Homo sapiens: one gene and its partners. The protein of the gene in region 3 purifies or fractionates together with the protein of the main gene of each other region. This does not show direct contact. Each region holds a gene or a part of one and is shown on either strand. Other genes may lie near its edges.

What was found. The genes of interacting proteins can lie anywhere in the genome.
Region 1: the proteins of SH3RF2 (region 3) and NSMAF purify together in Homo sapiens (affinity purification with mass spectrometry, with the first as the bait; one study listed by BioGRID). This does not show direct contact.
Region 2: the proteins of SH3RF2 (region 3) and CPAP purify together in Homo sapiens (affinity purification with mass spectrometry; one large-scale study listed by BioGRID and IntAct). This does not show direct contact.

What each region holds. Positions count from the first base shown.
Region 1 is NC_000008.11:58,656,512-58,661,723, reverse strand, and holds the start of NSMAF (protein FAN), read left to right. Parts: upstream 1-1,870; 5' UTR 1,871-2,092; coding exon 2,093-2,151; exon of another isoform or gene 2,152-2,377; coding exon of another isoform or gene 2,378-2,529; exon of another isoform or gene 2,530-2,872; intron 2,873-5,212. UniProt on the Homo sapiens protein: Couples the p55 TNF-receptor (TNF-R55 / TNFR1) to neutral sphingomyelinase (N-SMASE). Specifically binds to the N-smase activation domain of TNF-R55. May regulate ceramide production by N-SMASE.
Region 2 is NC_000013.11:24,905,320-24,910,044, forward strand, and holds part of CPAP (centrosomal P4.1-associated protein), read right to left. Parts: coding exon 4,471-4,725; intron 2,808-4,470; coding exon 2,699-2,807; intron 1,875-2,698; coding exon 1,772-1,874; intron 1,642-1,771; coding exon 27-1,641; intron 1-26. UniProt on the Homo sapiens protein: Plays an important role in cell division and centrosome function by participating in centriole duplication. Inhibits microtubule nucleation from the centrosome. Involved in the regulation of slow processive growth of centriolar microtubules.
Region 3 is NC_000005.10:145,994,910-145,999,634, forward strand, and holds part of SH3RF2 (E3 ubiquitin-protein ligase SH3RF2), read left to right. Parts: intron 1-1,428; exon of another isoform or gene 1,429-1,515; intron 1,516-2,307; exon of another isoform or gene 2,308-3,591; intron 3,592-4,725. UniProt on the Homo sapiens protein: Has E3 ubiquitin-protein ligase activity. Acts as an anti-apoptotic regulator of the JNK pathway by ubiquitinating and promoting the degradation of SH3RF1, a scaffold protein that is required for pro-apoptotic JNK activation.

The sequences.
Region 1 (5,212 bases), on a different chromosome or scaffold from region 3:
TCTCTGTATTGCCTAGGTTGGGGTGCAGTGGTACGATCATGGCTCACAGAAGCCTCAAACTCCTGGACTCAAGTGATCCTCCTGCCTCAGCCTCTCCAGTAGCTGGGACTATAGGTGTGTGCCACTGCACCCAGGTAATTTTTATTTTTTATTTTTTGTAGAGACAGGGTCTTGCTTTGTTGCCCAGGCTGGTCTCGAACTCCTGGCTTCAAGCAATCCTCCTGCCTCAGCCTCTCCAGTAGCTGGGACTATAGGTGTGTGCCACTGTACCCAGGTAATTTTTATTTTTTATTTTTTGTAGAGACAGGGTCTTGCTTTGTTGCCCAGGCTGGTCTCGAACTCCTGGCTTCAAGGAATCCTCCAGCTTCAACTTCCAAAAGCATTGGGATTACCGGCATGAGCCATCACTCCAGCCCCTTAGGGCTTATATACCATAGGGGAGGGGTGGTTCAGAAGGGATGTGTAGGACAATTGAAGTATAATAACATCAAGTTGTTTGAATTAAGGACAGAACATACTGGGTAGATACCTGCTCTTACACAAGGAACAATAGATAAAGTAGAAATCTTAGAGGCCTTCCCAGAACTGGGGTCAATCAGAAGTCAACACGGAGGATTAGCTTCCAAGATGGAGCTGCTTTCGCCTCCACATCCAGCAATTCCACTCTTAGATTCCAATTCCACTCAACAGAAATGGAAACATAGGTCCATAAAAAAACTGTACATGACTGTGTACAGCAGCCTTATTCACAATAGCCAAAATGTGGAAACAACTGAAATGTCCATCAACTGATGAATGGATAAACAAAATGCAACAGAATATGCTCCAGCAATCTAAAGGAACGAAGTACTGTACAGATACATGCTACAACATAGATGAACCTTGAAAGCATTACGCTAAATGAAAGAAGCCAGACACAAAAGGCCACATATTGTATGGCTCCATTTATATGAAATATCCAGAATAGGCAAACCCATAGAGACAGGAAATTGATTATTGTTTGCTAGGGCTGGGGTTTGGAGGGTAGAGTTAGGAAGAGTGACAGCTAGAGGGTATGGGTTTCTTTTACATGTGATGAAAATGTTCTCAAATTGTGGTGATTGTTGAACATATCTGGAAATATACTAAAAATCGCTGAATGGTATACTTTAAATGGTTGACTTGTTTGGTATGTGAGTTATATCCCAATAAAGCTGTTATATAAAAAAAAATCATGCGAGCAATTATCTCAACAATCAAGAGACTGTGTTAAAGATTCTTTGCTTGGCCAAACTTCAGTTAGGCTTCTGAATCTTCTCCCAGGTCCTTGTGTGCACTTCCTTGTAAATGCAGTGTTAGGAAGTAACACTGCCACGGCAGTTTAGCAAGAATCCCCCACCCTCCATATGTGATCAAAATTCTTTACTCCTACCCTTAGTATCTGACCCCCTGGCCTGCCTTCACTGGGACTCCTGTTAGGTTGGTTCAGCCAGAATTTCCCCCAGAATTGATGTTTCCTCTTAGCAGTTTTCCGAACACCTGCTCCTTGCTCCTTGGCTATAAATCTCCACTTATTCCTGGTGTATTTGGAATAGTTACGACTGAGTTGCCTTCACCCCTTTAACTTCCGTCTTTTTTTTTTTTTCACAATGGAGGACACAAAACGTTGTTATTTCAAGTCTTTGTGGCCAACAGATTGGTGGTTTATGGGCCAGCATCCCTTTTTATGCGTAAAATATTTAAAACGCAGCCTGCAATGGTTGGTAAAGTGGTGAAACGTTTAGTGTGTGAGGTCGGATCCTGGTCTGGCCGCTGGCCCTGGCGATCCTCTGAGGCGGCCTGAGTTTGGGGCGCCTCGTGTCACCGCGCGCCCCTCCTCCGGGCCTGAGTCACGGTGCCGCCGGAGTCCCCACGCGAGGATGCTGCGGTGAGCGCGGCCGGGACGCCGCGTCGGGCTCTCGGCCGCCCAGCGGCGCCGCAGGGGAAGCCAGGCCGGCAGCCGCGCGCTCCCCAGCCGGCCACCAATCCCGCCCTCCCCGGCTCCTCCGGACCTCCTCGGCAGGCGGCGGCGGGGCCTGCCTGTGCGCTCTGCGCCCGCCCGCGCCTACCCTCCATGGCGTTTATCCGGAAGAAGCAGCAGGAGCAGCAGCTGCAGCTCTACTCCAAGGAGAGGTGCGCGCCCAGCTGAAGAAGGGCCCAGCCGGGGGCCTAGTCGGGGCCGGTCGTGGGGACGCCGGCCGGAGATCTGAGGGACGGGAGGCGGCGTGGGGGCCGGGCACGGAGGCAGGGGCCGGACGCGTGTCCAGGGCCTGGGCTGGGGGCTGTGGCGGAAACCTGAGGTCGGGGTGAGAGGCCGGGGGCCTGGTCTGGGCCGGAGCCTGCCGGGGACAGGAACTGGATGACGGGCCAGGCCAGATTCCACCGCGGAGCCGAGGCATGCCGAGCTATCCGGCAGTGCAGGTCCCGGCGGCCGCGGGCAGCTCACCCGGAAGGCCGCGCGGGGTCCGGGCGTGGATCCCGGCACGCGAGCCCGGGCGTTCGCAGGGGAGGGTGAGTACGCTGCCCGGCGGGCACCCCCTTTCTAATCCTTCCCCTTAATCGGGTCCAGGCACTCGGCGCCGGCGCCGCAGAGTTGGTCGCCGGGCGGCACCGAGCAGGCCGGCGACCACCCACTCGCATTGCCGCGCCTTTTTCCTGCCGACTCCTTTAGACACAGGACTAGCTCCATGCCCTGGAAGGCTGGGAGGGGGGCCGCCGGAAAGGCCTGATTCTGAGGAAAGCCAAGGTCCTGCCTCCCAAACACTTGCTCCCCGCGCAGTGGACCTTGTGTTGGAAAGCTTTGCAGTCGAAATCGCGGTGCGGCAGCGGAGCACTCATTCTCACCAGCATCCCAGTAAGGATTTGGGATCCCTTGAGCTAAAATGGTCTCACAGCAGTTCCCTTTCAGATATGCTGGACCTGTCCCCAAGGGAAGTCTCATAAGAAAGCTCACTTCGGCTCTATGTATAGTTCCCAGGGCATTTTTGGTGACAGAAACAACTTGCTCGGTCTGCAGCTCAGATGCCAAAAGGAAAGGGGGGCTGAATCATTTTACAGACACACTGTTTTGATTGTGAGAGCCACAGATCTTCCAGTGCTGCTAGCCTGTCACGTTGTCTCATCAGTGAATACCAGCAAAGCAGGTTACACGTGGGAATACAAGTGCAGACTTCAAGATTTGTCTACACTTGTTTTATAAGGGTTGACTCGACCCCTTTGATCCAGACATTCATCTTTCTCTAATCTGTAATGTTGGTCTAACCAGTGTGTCCACAGTACGAAATGTCATTTTTCTACTGTAGAGAAGAAGATACGATACACAGAAAACGTATCTCAGATATGGCTTTCAAAAATGTTTTTGGTGATGTGATTAGGTTTTAGTCACAGAAAGGGTTGTTTATTAAATAACTGAGCCCTAACTATGTAACTCACACTTGGGGATGCCCTTCTGACTGAATTTGTAATGCATTTTTCTTGTGGAAAGAGCTTGAGTGGAGATTCTTTGTTTAGTACCAACAATATTAAGACTTGTTGGTGCTCTGTATTGAGTGGGTGAACATTCATATTTAAATTGTGAGAACTTTGACACACTTGAATTGGCATCATGTTGTATGATATGAGTCATTCGTGCCAATACTCATATTGGCCTTTTTGATATACAGGGAAACGTTTTTTCCTTGGTTCTGGCTGTTATTTCGATGAAGTAATTTGTGTTCAATTTGGCTAGCTCATACAGCTCCGTGGTGTCACACAAACCTTGAAACCTGTACTTGCATTTCCATGTATATGCTGCTTTGTTAGAATTCATTGATTAGACAACAACGTGATAGGCTGGCAGTGTTCAGAGAGAACTCTAGCTCTTGGCAACCAAAACATTTATCTATCCAGTCAGGAGGCATCAACTGTTCCTGAGCATCAGTCATCTGAAAAAGTTGGCGCCATGTGTTTTATATTTATTTGAATTATAACTTGCTGAGTGCCCAAATTGTTTAGTGCTCTGCCCCATGGCTTTGCAACCTGGGCTGATGGGCATACTCCATTCAATGCATAGAATATGCATTTGAATGACAGGAATCTGTCTCACATCAGGTATGCACTGGAATCAAGGAGTCTCTTTTATAAATCTTAGAATTCATTCTGAAACAGAGGAATATTTTAAGGCAACTTTATTAAGCCCCAAATTTACCATTTCTGCCCAGATTTTTCCGGGTTTATCCCCTTGCATCAATAAACACAAATTAGCAAATGGATTGGATTCGTCATTGGCTCCAGCATACCCAGGAAAATTGTTACTTTTCTTGGAAAACTTGAAGAGGGGTTGTTTCAGAGGTTACCCATGAGAGGCCTCAACCTGTTCATTGTAAGTTCACTGGCGGCTCTCATGCTAATTAAGGGATTTTAGATTTCCAGAGCTACCAAATATTGACCCCAGAAAAGAAACTTGAAATGAGCATTTATTTCTCTTATTGTTAGGTTGATGTACTTTGATATTCCTGCAAAAGCAGAAGCATAGAGACTGACTAGGAGATTCTTGCATTGGTGGTTTAAACCAAGGTGGTGGCAGAATAAATGGAGGAAAGTGGATGGATTCTAGATGTTTTTAGGACGTGTGATTGACAGGTCTTGGTGTGGTGTATTGTCTGTGAGAGGTGATAAAGGAAGAATTCCAGCTAGGATTATCTGATAAAATACAGCACACCCAGTTAAGTTCGAATTTCAGATAAACAATGAATAATTTTTTAGTATAAGTAATTGCGATAGTATATGCAATATTTGGTATGTACTTATACTAAAATTTTTTTAGTATAAGTAAATGCAATAGTATATGCAATATTTGGTATATACTTATACTAATTTTTTTTATTTTTATTTTTTTGAGACAGAGTCTCGCTCTGTTGCCCAGGCTGGAGTGCAGTGGCGTGATCTTGGCTCACTGCAAGCTCCGCCTCCTGGGTTCACGCCATTCTCCTGCCTCAGCCTCCCAAGTAGCTGGGACTACAGGCGCCTGTCACCACGCCCGGCTAATTTTTTGTATTTTTAGTAGAGACAGGGTTTCACCGTGTTAGCCAGGATGGTCTCGATCTCCTGACCTCGTGATCCACCCACCCGCCTTGGCCTCCCAAAGTGCTGGGATTACAGGCGTGAGCCACCGTGCCCGGCCCTTATACTAAAATTTTTAAAAGTATATTATTTA
Region 2 (4,725 bases), on a different chromosome or scaffold from region 3:
ACATATTTTATAATGCTCTGACTCACCAGGTGGTTGGTCTTGACTTATGTTTAACTTGAGTTCATTTCCCAAGTGTGAATCTGACTTTGGTTTTGGTTTCAAAGAAGGAAAGAATTTCATCATCAGCTCCGATGTAGGAGGACTTCTGCTCCTCCTGGACTTGCTCAAGTCTTCTCCCCTCTTGACTGGTGCAATCTTCCTTTTTATTGTTTTGTCCAGGATACCTATTTCATTATTAGGGTAGCATGTCTGCGGCGTCCCATAAGTGGATTCATTCCCAAGAACAACATCATGGTTACACAAATTCTCTTCAAGGTCAGTCCAAGTTCTTTCATCATCAAAGTCCATTTTACTCAGACTTAGGGATGAGGATCTCGAGGGCTCAGACACTTTATGTTTTATGCTTTCCATGATAGACTCATCGCTACTGTAATCTTTATCAGACAAATCCAGATCAACATCTCTCCTTTTATCTTCTTGGGTCCTGGTGTCCTTAAAAGGCCCCTTATCATCACAGACTTGTGGGCTATCCTCTCTGCTGCTGATGCCCCTCTCTCTATCCTCAGTCGATGGTTTTATGGTAACATCAAGCTGTTCCTCAGAGTCAGTGCTACTGTCACTATTTGGAACACCTTCATCGTCACGTGCATTCCATTCAGTCTGATTTTCAGAAGTGCTCTTTTGGACGGCTTTCCTGATTTTACAAGGCTGTTCCCTCAATTCATCAGCTGAGGACAATGAATGAAGTTGTTTGGGTGCGACTTCACACTCACTCTCCTTCTCACGTGCAGTGTGGTCCAAATCCTCACTGCGGTTACAATGACTAATGGGATCTGCCGGATTTGTCTTCTGTGGCACAGCTTTGACAGGGGTGGAAGACATCCGGTGACCTTTGCAGATCTGTTGATCCCTTTCTAAGATTTTCAGTACAAATGAGGAATTACTAGAAAATGATATTTCATCAGCAGCTTGTTCTAAAAACAAAAATTCATCTAATTCCAAATTTTCCTTTTCCTTTTCTCGTTCCCAAGTCTCTAACTTTTTCTGAAGAGAAACGTCAAGAGAAGATTCAGACTCTTTCATGGTCTCCCTTATGGGGCTCTTAGCAGCCAGCCGGCTGGCCGGCCCTGTTGAAAGAGGAAGTCTGTCTTTACCTTGTGTCTTATTCCACCCTGTGCAGCCAGTATCGCAAGGTTTTGGACACTCAGTTACATTTTCTTTATTATTAGATGTGACTTTGTTTTCAAATTTGATCTGGTCTCTAAACTGCCCATCACATTTCTTCCCCGTCTGTATTTTCAATCCTGACGGAGAAAGACTTTTCCTGTTACTACACTTCAGCATTTTCGGCTTCTGACTGAGGGTGACAGAACCACTCTTGGTTCTAGCTTTACTGTCCTTTTTAAGGATAGGGTTGTCTGCACACAGCTCTTTATTTTTAAGAGCGGTTTTCCGCTGGAGTTGCTGTCTATCCATTTTAAACAGCGGCTGGTCCTCGGAAGTGCTCTGGTTAGTCACTAGTTTACTTTCTTTGCCTTTTTGAAACTTAGATTTGGCATTAGTAAATCTAGCTAAACCTTCTCCTCGTTTTAAAAATGGTTGTTTTGGTTTTGCTTTGATTGGCAATGGTCCTTCTGCTTCCTAAAATAAAAGAATAATATTTGAATTAATTTTGGTATATCCAAGTGATCTCAAAGTTATTTTTAAGGCAAATTATAGATAAATCTCTAAAGCCTTAGAATGATTTAATCAGAAGAGCACAATTGCTGACCTTCAGCTGTTTTTGCTTCAGTTCTTGCTCTTCCAACTGAATTTGTTCTTCTAAGTAATCTTCAAAGGTCTGTTTCCTTTCTCCAATAGCAGCTTTAATGGGCCTAATTAGAAACAGAAAGTTATTTAACATGCAAATCATAATGTGTGAATATTTTACACTTAGTGTGCCTGGTATAGAAACCCTTGACAACATGGAGAACTAACTTTTCCCAAAATCAGTGCCTCCCTTTGAGAACCTAACAAAAGCCACAATCCCTCTCCACACCTTAAAATAAAGAAACATACAACACTCTTCACATGACTTTGGAGTCCTAAGAACCCTTCTGAAGTCCATCTATCGACCACAGATTAACACATGGAGTAACATATTCATCAAATAACTTTAAAATGTATTTCAAAAATAGATCACTAAATATGCATTTTTTTAATTAAGAAAGGCCCTTAATGTGAGAACAATAATCAGAAAAGTCATTTTGTCCATATTATATTAAAAATTTTGAAATAAATTTTTAAAATAATCAACTTACTTAAAATATAAAATACTTAATCTTTGCCATATTTTAAAATTCTGTAACTAAACTGATAATGCAATTATAATTGATAAGTGACACCAAATGGGAGATGTCAATACTTAATTTTTCCCTTCTCCAAAAATAGGATTTAACTATTTGAGAGAAAATTGATTTTATCCAGATGTTTCTCTTAAGTGAAAAAGCTTCGAGAATACAATGTCAAGGCAGCTTGACATATCTCCTCAACCTCTTTTGTTGTTGACAGTACATAATAGGTTGTATCTTTAACCTTAAAAGCATAGTCAAGCAAAAACCAGAAAAATATAGATCTTTCAAACAAAGAAAGTGTTCAATAATAAAGGCTAGCTATTGTACTAAATAGTCACATTTCTCACTTTCAACACGAACAATACCTTTCTTCAATATTAGCCACTTCTGAGGAATCATCATGTTTTTGTAAGTTCTTATCATTTGCTTCCTGAATCTGTTCTGTCACTTTCTCCCAACATAAGATACTTTCTCCTGAGATAAAAATTAAGAACAATTTAGCTCAAGAAAAGCATATTAATGTCTTAAAACATGAGAATTCTACAAGTTACTATGCTAAAACATTTTTTTAATTAAAAGTAATGTATATCACAGATTTTACAACACTCAAGGAATTCTTTAATATAATTAAGAGAAACTACAAAACTCCAATTAAGACACTTGAGGCCGGGTGTGGTGGCTCACACCTGTAATCCCAGCACTTTGGGAGGCCAAGGCGGGAGAATCACTTGAGGCCAGGAATTCGAGCCCAGCCTGGCCAACGTGGCGAAACCCCGTCTCTACAAAAAAAAAAAAAAAAAAAAAAAAAAAAATTAGCCAGGCGTGGTGGCACATGCCTGTAATCCCAGCTACCTGGGAGGCTGAGAGCAAGCAGAGGTTGCAGTAAGCCAAGATGGTGCCACTGGACTCCAACCTAAGTGACAGAGGAAGACCCTGTCTCAAAAATAAAATAAAATAAAATAAAGACACTTGACATTCTTCAAAAGGTTAATGTCATGAGGAAAAAAGTGTGGGGTTTTCTAGAGATTAAAAAGGCTAAAGAGTTGTAAGAATCAAACGTAATACATGAACTTGACTGGATATGCATTAATTTGATTGGATCCTTTAAAAAAAAAGCACCTTTAAAAGATATTTTGGGATAACTGGGGGAATCCCAAAATGGACTTGAATATTAAGGAATTATCATTAATTTCTTTAGATACAATAATAGCACTGTGGTTATACAGATGAATGTCCTAATTTTTGCTTGATGCATACTGAAATATTTGGAATGAAGTAACAAGATACCTGCATATTATTTTCAGTGAAATGGTTCAGCAAATTATACACATATAGAAGTAAAGATAAGGATATACATGTAAAAGATATATATACACATACATACACTGACAAAGTAAATACAGCAAAATATTAACTGCTCAATCTAGGTGGTGGGTATATCAGTAATAACTGCAGTGGTCTTTCAACTTTTCTAGATGTTTGAAATTTTCCAAAATAAAAGGCTATGGAAACATGTTGTATAAAAAAGAAGAAAAACATATTTGAGCTTTCCACACCGATGAATTAACTCTAAATTAGGAACAAGGCATTATGGTTGGGTGCAGTAGCTCAGATCTGCAATCCCAGTACTTTGGGAGGCCAAGGCAGGCAGATCACTTGAGGCCAGGAGTTTGAGACTAGCCTGGCCAACATGTTGAAACCCCATCTCTACTAAAAATACACAAAATTATCTGGGCATGGTGGCACATACCTGTAATCCCAGCTACTTGGGAGGCTGAGACACAAGAATCACTTGAACCCGAGAGGCAGAGGTTGCAGTGAGCTGAGATTGTGCCACTGCTCTCCAGCCTGGGTGACAGAGCGAGACTGTCTCAAAAAAAAAAAACACGCCACAGGGGACAAAAAAAAATAACCATACAGAAAGAGCTGGCAGGGTAGCACGTGCCTATAGTCCCAGCTACCTGAGAGGCTGATGGGGGAAGATTACTTGTGCCCAGGAGATTGAGTCCAGCCTGAGCAACACGGCAACACTCCATCTCTGAAAAAATAATTTTTAAAGAAAAAACATGGAAAGGCTTCATCTTAGGACAACTTAGTAACACTATAAGCACAGAAGAGAGAAACATAAGTAGCTCACCTGTAGGATGGTTACGGTTTTCTTCTTTTAAATTATTTTTTTCCACAGGTGCTTCTTGATACTGTGCCTCAGAAAATAAATTAGGAGACGCACGTTTTGAAGTTAAGACAAAATCTCCATGAGCAGTTCTACAGAAGTTGCTTTGCTCATGGGATAAAATGTTGGACGGGTATGTTTCTTCCTGGGTTGGGTCCGGGTAGACATATGATGGGAAGCAGCATGTGGCTCTCTCTCCAGTGGTGGTATTTCCTGGAG
Region 3 (4,725 bases):
TTATCATTATGCAAATCTAAAGGGGCTTAGATCTTTTCTTCTTTATCTTCTCATTCTCCCTTTCTTTCCTTTTCTCTTTTCTGTTTTTCATAAATAATAAAAAAAAAGCCTCACAGTTCATTCAGCAAGGTGGAAGTTTATTTAGCTCTCCACCAAAAGTCTGGATGTGAAGTAATCCAGGATGGGTGTGGAAGCTCTGAAACCCAGGCCCCTTCCCTATTAGGTGTGGCCCTCGTCCTCAGTATTCAAGATGGCAGCTAGAGCTCTAGGGATCATGTCTGCATTCCACATAGCAAGATGGAGGAGAGGAAAAGAAAACTCCGGACGGATGCTTCCTAAAGGTTGCTTACTCCCACACTGGCCTGGACTTAATCACCAGAAAGGCTAAAAATGTGACCAATATTCCAGGTAGTCATGTACCCAGAAAAATGTGATATTACAATGGAAAATTGAGAGGAAGAAGTATGGAGGAACAATTATTGTTCCCTGATGTACCCAACCCCGGGGGTCTAACAGATTTGGGTCATTCCCCAGAAACCCATTCTCATCCAGCTTTTACGTGCTTATTTCTCAGGTAGGGAACACCTTCCCCAAAAAAGTTAGTTGCATAGTTTGCTTATCCTACTCAGCTTGGCTTACTTTCTAAATTCCTCTCATACCTTTTACCTCTCATCCACCAACTTCATTCATTTTCTAACTGTCCAATTTTAATAAGCAATACAATTATTTTATTATAGAAAAGTTAGAGAACACAGCTAAGCACTTAGAAAAAAAGCGTTTTTTCAATATTCAAAAATCTCACCACTTAGAGATAACCACTTCTAAAATATTGGCATATAGTCATCTAACATTTTCCCTAGATAAAAAACATACATATGTATTTATAATGAAAATCTAGTCTACATAATTATTCTTAACCTCTTCTGTTACACTTAATGGTATATTATCAGTAACGCTCAATATTATTAATTATAGAAAAACATCAATTTTAATGACTGCAAAGTTTTTCATTGTATGGGTATGGGTGTATAATAATTTATTCAACCAATTCCCTGTTTATTCCACAGCATTATGTTAAACCCCCTAGCACATATATCTTTGCTCATTTGTCCACCAGTTTCCTGGGGATGAGCTGTGTTCCTGTGGTTTTTTCACCCCTGGGGTCTCCTTACTTATCTGGGGACCAGCAGAAAAGGACACCTCCACCATTCCATCAGCAAAGTAATGTTGGGTCTTATCTCTACCACTAAGCTGCTCGGAATTCTTCTTTCAAATGATCATTGCGGATTCAGGAGATCCATGAAGACCTAAATTAATGCCTCTCTATACCCCACTGCATGAATAGCAAGATTATGAACAGCAAGACTGCTACAATGCGAGGTGATTACATAATCCCACTGCTTGGAAAAGCACAAAATAAAATACGACCTTAGGTGACTGAAGCACTTCCTCTTAGTCTGTTAGAACTTGCAGTTTACCCAGCAGACTTCGAGCAAGACTGGAGTGAGGCCATTTCTATGTGAAAAAAACAATTTCAATTAGTAAAAATGCATTTGACTGAAATAATTATTTAGACAACTGATTTGACAAACGATTATGCTTGAGCTGATTTTTTTTAAAAAACTGACGATTGATCTCTGACTAATTGTTTCTTTGTCTCAGCTGAGCTTCCTAATGATCCAAATGCTCATTTTATAAATGAATACAGTTTAAGAAAGATTAAGTAACTTAGCCATGATTACACAAAAGGAAAGAAGTAGAGCCAGAATTCAAAATCAGTATTCAGACCCAGAAAGAGTCACTGACTCCCATCTCATAGACGTAGAGTCAAGTTCACAGCCCTGTTCCTTGGGTAGTGATTAAGAAAAGGGGTTCCAGCATCAGGTAATCTGAGTTCATGTCCCATATCTGCCATTTCCCAGTTGTGTCATCTTATGCAAGTTAATAAACCACTCTGTGTCTCTGTCACCCTATCTTATAAATGGGGATGATGCGTGTCTATCTCCAAGGGCTGCCTAGATTAAATGAGATGATCCACATACACACTTAGCACATAGGAAGTGCTCGGTAATTAGTTATTAATGTTATGTAGGTGTCGTCTGAAAACCTTGGCCAAAAGGGTCATAGACATGGCGGTCATCAGGGTTCAGGTGTACATGTGAAGGTTTGTTACACAGGTAAACTCGTATCACGGGCATTTGTTGTGCAGGTTATTTCATCACCCAGCAATGAATGAGACTTCCTGTTGCTCCTCATTCTCCCCAGCATTTACCATTGTCAATGTCTCAGATTTTCACCCTGCTAGTAGATGGGAAAACTGACAACCATGCCTGCAAGTCTGATACATGCATCTGTAAATGTACATGGAACCAAAGAAGAGGAATCCAAAAAGCAGCTAGTGAAACCAGAGCAGCTCCCCGTATATACTGCACCACCGCTCCAGTCTAAATATGTTGAAGAGCAGCCTGGTCATTTATAAATGGGCTTTGCTTCCATCTACACTGCAACTGGTCATTATACTGGCTGGTGCAAGGATGTTTATGTCTTTGTGAAAAATGGGATAATGGATACAGTACAATTTGGGAAAGATGCTTATGTCTATCTGAAGAATCCTCCTCGAGATTTTCTTCCGAAAATGGGAGTTATTACGGTTTCAGGATTGGTGGGCTTGGTTTCAGCGAGAAAAGGTTTTAAGTTTAAGAAAATTACTTATCCTCTGGGACTGGCCACTTTATGAGCAACTGTTTGCTACCCAGTTCAGTCAGTAATAATTGCTAAGGTAACAGGGAAAAAGGTATATGCTACAAGCCAGCAAATTTTTGAAGCAGTTAAATCATTGTGGACAAAAAGCAGCAAAAAAAGAGTCACTCCCTAAACCTAAAGAAAAAAAATTAAGCTAGGATCCCCCGCCGAAATAGAAGTACCTGCAAAAACAACTCACATCTTGAAATGCTCAGTGCCCTTGCCAACAGAACTCAGCTCTGAAGCAAACACCAAATCAGAATCCACCTCAGGTGCTACACAGTTTATGCCTGACCCCAAGTTCATGGATCACAGGTGGTCCCACCCAGAACATATAGACAAGTATAGCACTGGAACCTGAAGCAGACTGCATAGAGAGACTACATAGAAAACTACAAGATGTATGAAGTTGCAAATAATGATGAAAAAAATCATGTAATGGGTAACTGATACATAGAGTATTATTTAAACCAAGTTTTTCCCTTACCTCTCCAAATGTGCAATTTGATAAATTGCATAAGTGGTTAACACACAAACTGTGAATGCAATGCAAACAATATTAAATGATTGATGAGGAGACTTAGGTAGAAGTATTAGCTTGAATTTAATGAGCTTTAGGGGCCCATAGTTAAAAAAAAAAAAAAAAAGACATGAACTCCAGTGAGACTAAAATCTGAAAATGCATATATGTATGTATAAAGACATACATATTTATATGTATAATCATATATTTCTGCTCTAGCTTTCCCTAATTAATGTCAGTTAAATTAGAATGGTGTGTAGAAAGATGTGTTTCCCTCTTTTTTTCCATTTCCTAGAGCTGGAATAAAATATCCATGTTTTATGGGAAAAAAAAGTATTATGCAGGTATGCCCCAGAGATAGTGTAGGTTCAGTTTTGGACCACCACAATAAAGCTAATACCATAATAAAGCAAGTCAAACACTTTTTTTTCATTTCCCAGTGCATATAAAAGTTGTATTTGGCTGGGCATGGTGGCTCACGCCTGTAATGCCCTTTGGGAGGCCAAGGTGGGTGGATCATGAGGTCAGGAGATCGAGACCATCCTGGCCAACATAGTGAAACCCCGTCTCCACCAAAAATACAAAAATTAGCCAGGTGTGGTGGTGTGCGCCTGTAATCCCAGCTAGTCGGGAGGCTGAGGCAGGAGAATCACTTGAACCCGGGAGGTGGAGGTTGCAGTGAGCTGAGATCACACCACTGGACTCCAGCCTGGCAACAGAGCAAGACTCCATCTCAGAAAGAAAAGAAAACAAAAAAGTTGTGTTTACACTATGCTGTAGTCTATTAAGTGTGCAATAGCATTATGCCTAAAAAACAATATATCTAACTTAATTTAAAATACTTTATTACTAAAAAAAAAACCTTAATGATGATCTGAGCCTTCAGCAAGTTGTAATCTTCTTGCTGGTGGTGGGTCTTGCCTCAATATTGATGGCTTGTTGCTTCACCTTGCATTTTTATGTTATAGAGACAGCTTCTCTTCTTAAACCTCAGACTATCTCTGCCAGCTTCAAACTTTTTTTCTGCAGCTTCCTCATCTCTCTCAGCCTTCATAGAATTAAAGAAAGTTAGGATCTTGATCTTGATTAGGCTTTGGCTTGAGGGTCTGTTGTGTCTGGTTTGATCTTCTACACAAACCAGTCAAACTTTCTCCATATCGGCAATAAGGCTGATTCACTTACTTATCATTTATGTATTCACTGCAGTAGCACTTCTGATTTCCTTCATGAACTTTTCTTTTGCATTCACAGCTTGACTGTTTGTCACAAGAGGCCTAGCTTTTGGCCTATCTCAGCTTTAGTCATGCCTTCCTCATTAAGATTAATCATTTCTAGCTTTTGATTTAAAGTGAGAGATGTGAAACTCTTCCTTTCACTTGAAAATTTGTAGGCAATTGTAGGGTCATTAATTGGCCTCATTTTAATATTTTTGTGTCTCAGAGAATAGGGAGGCCCAAGGA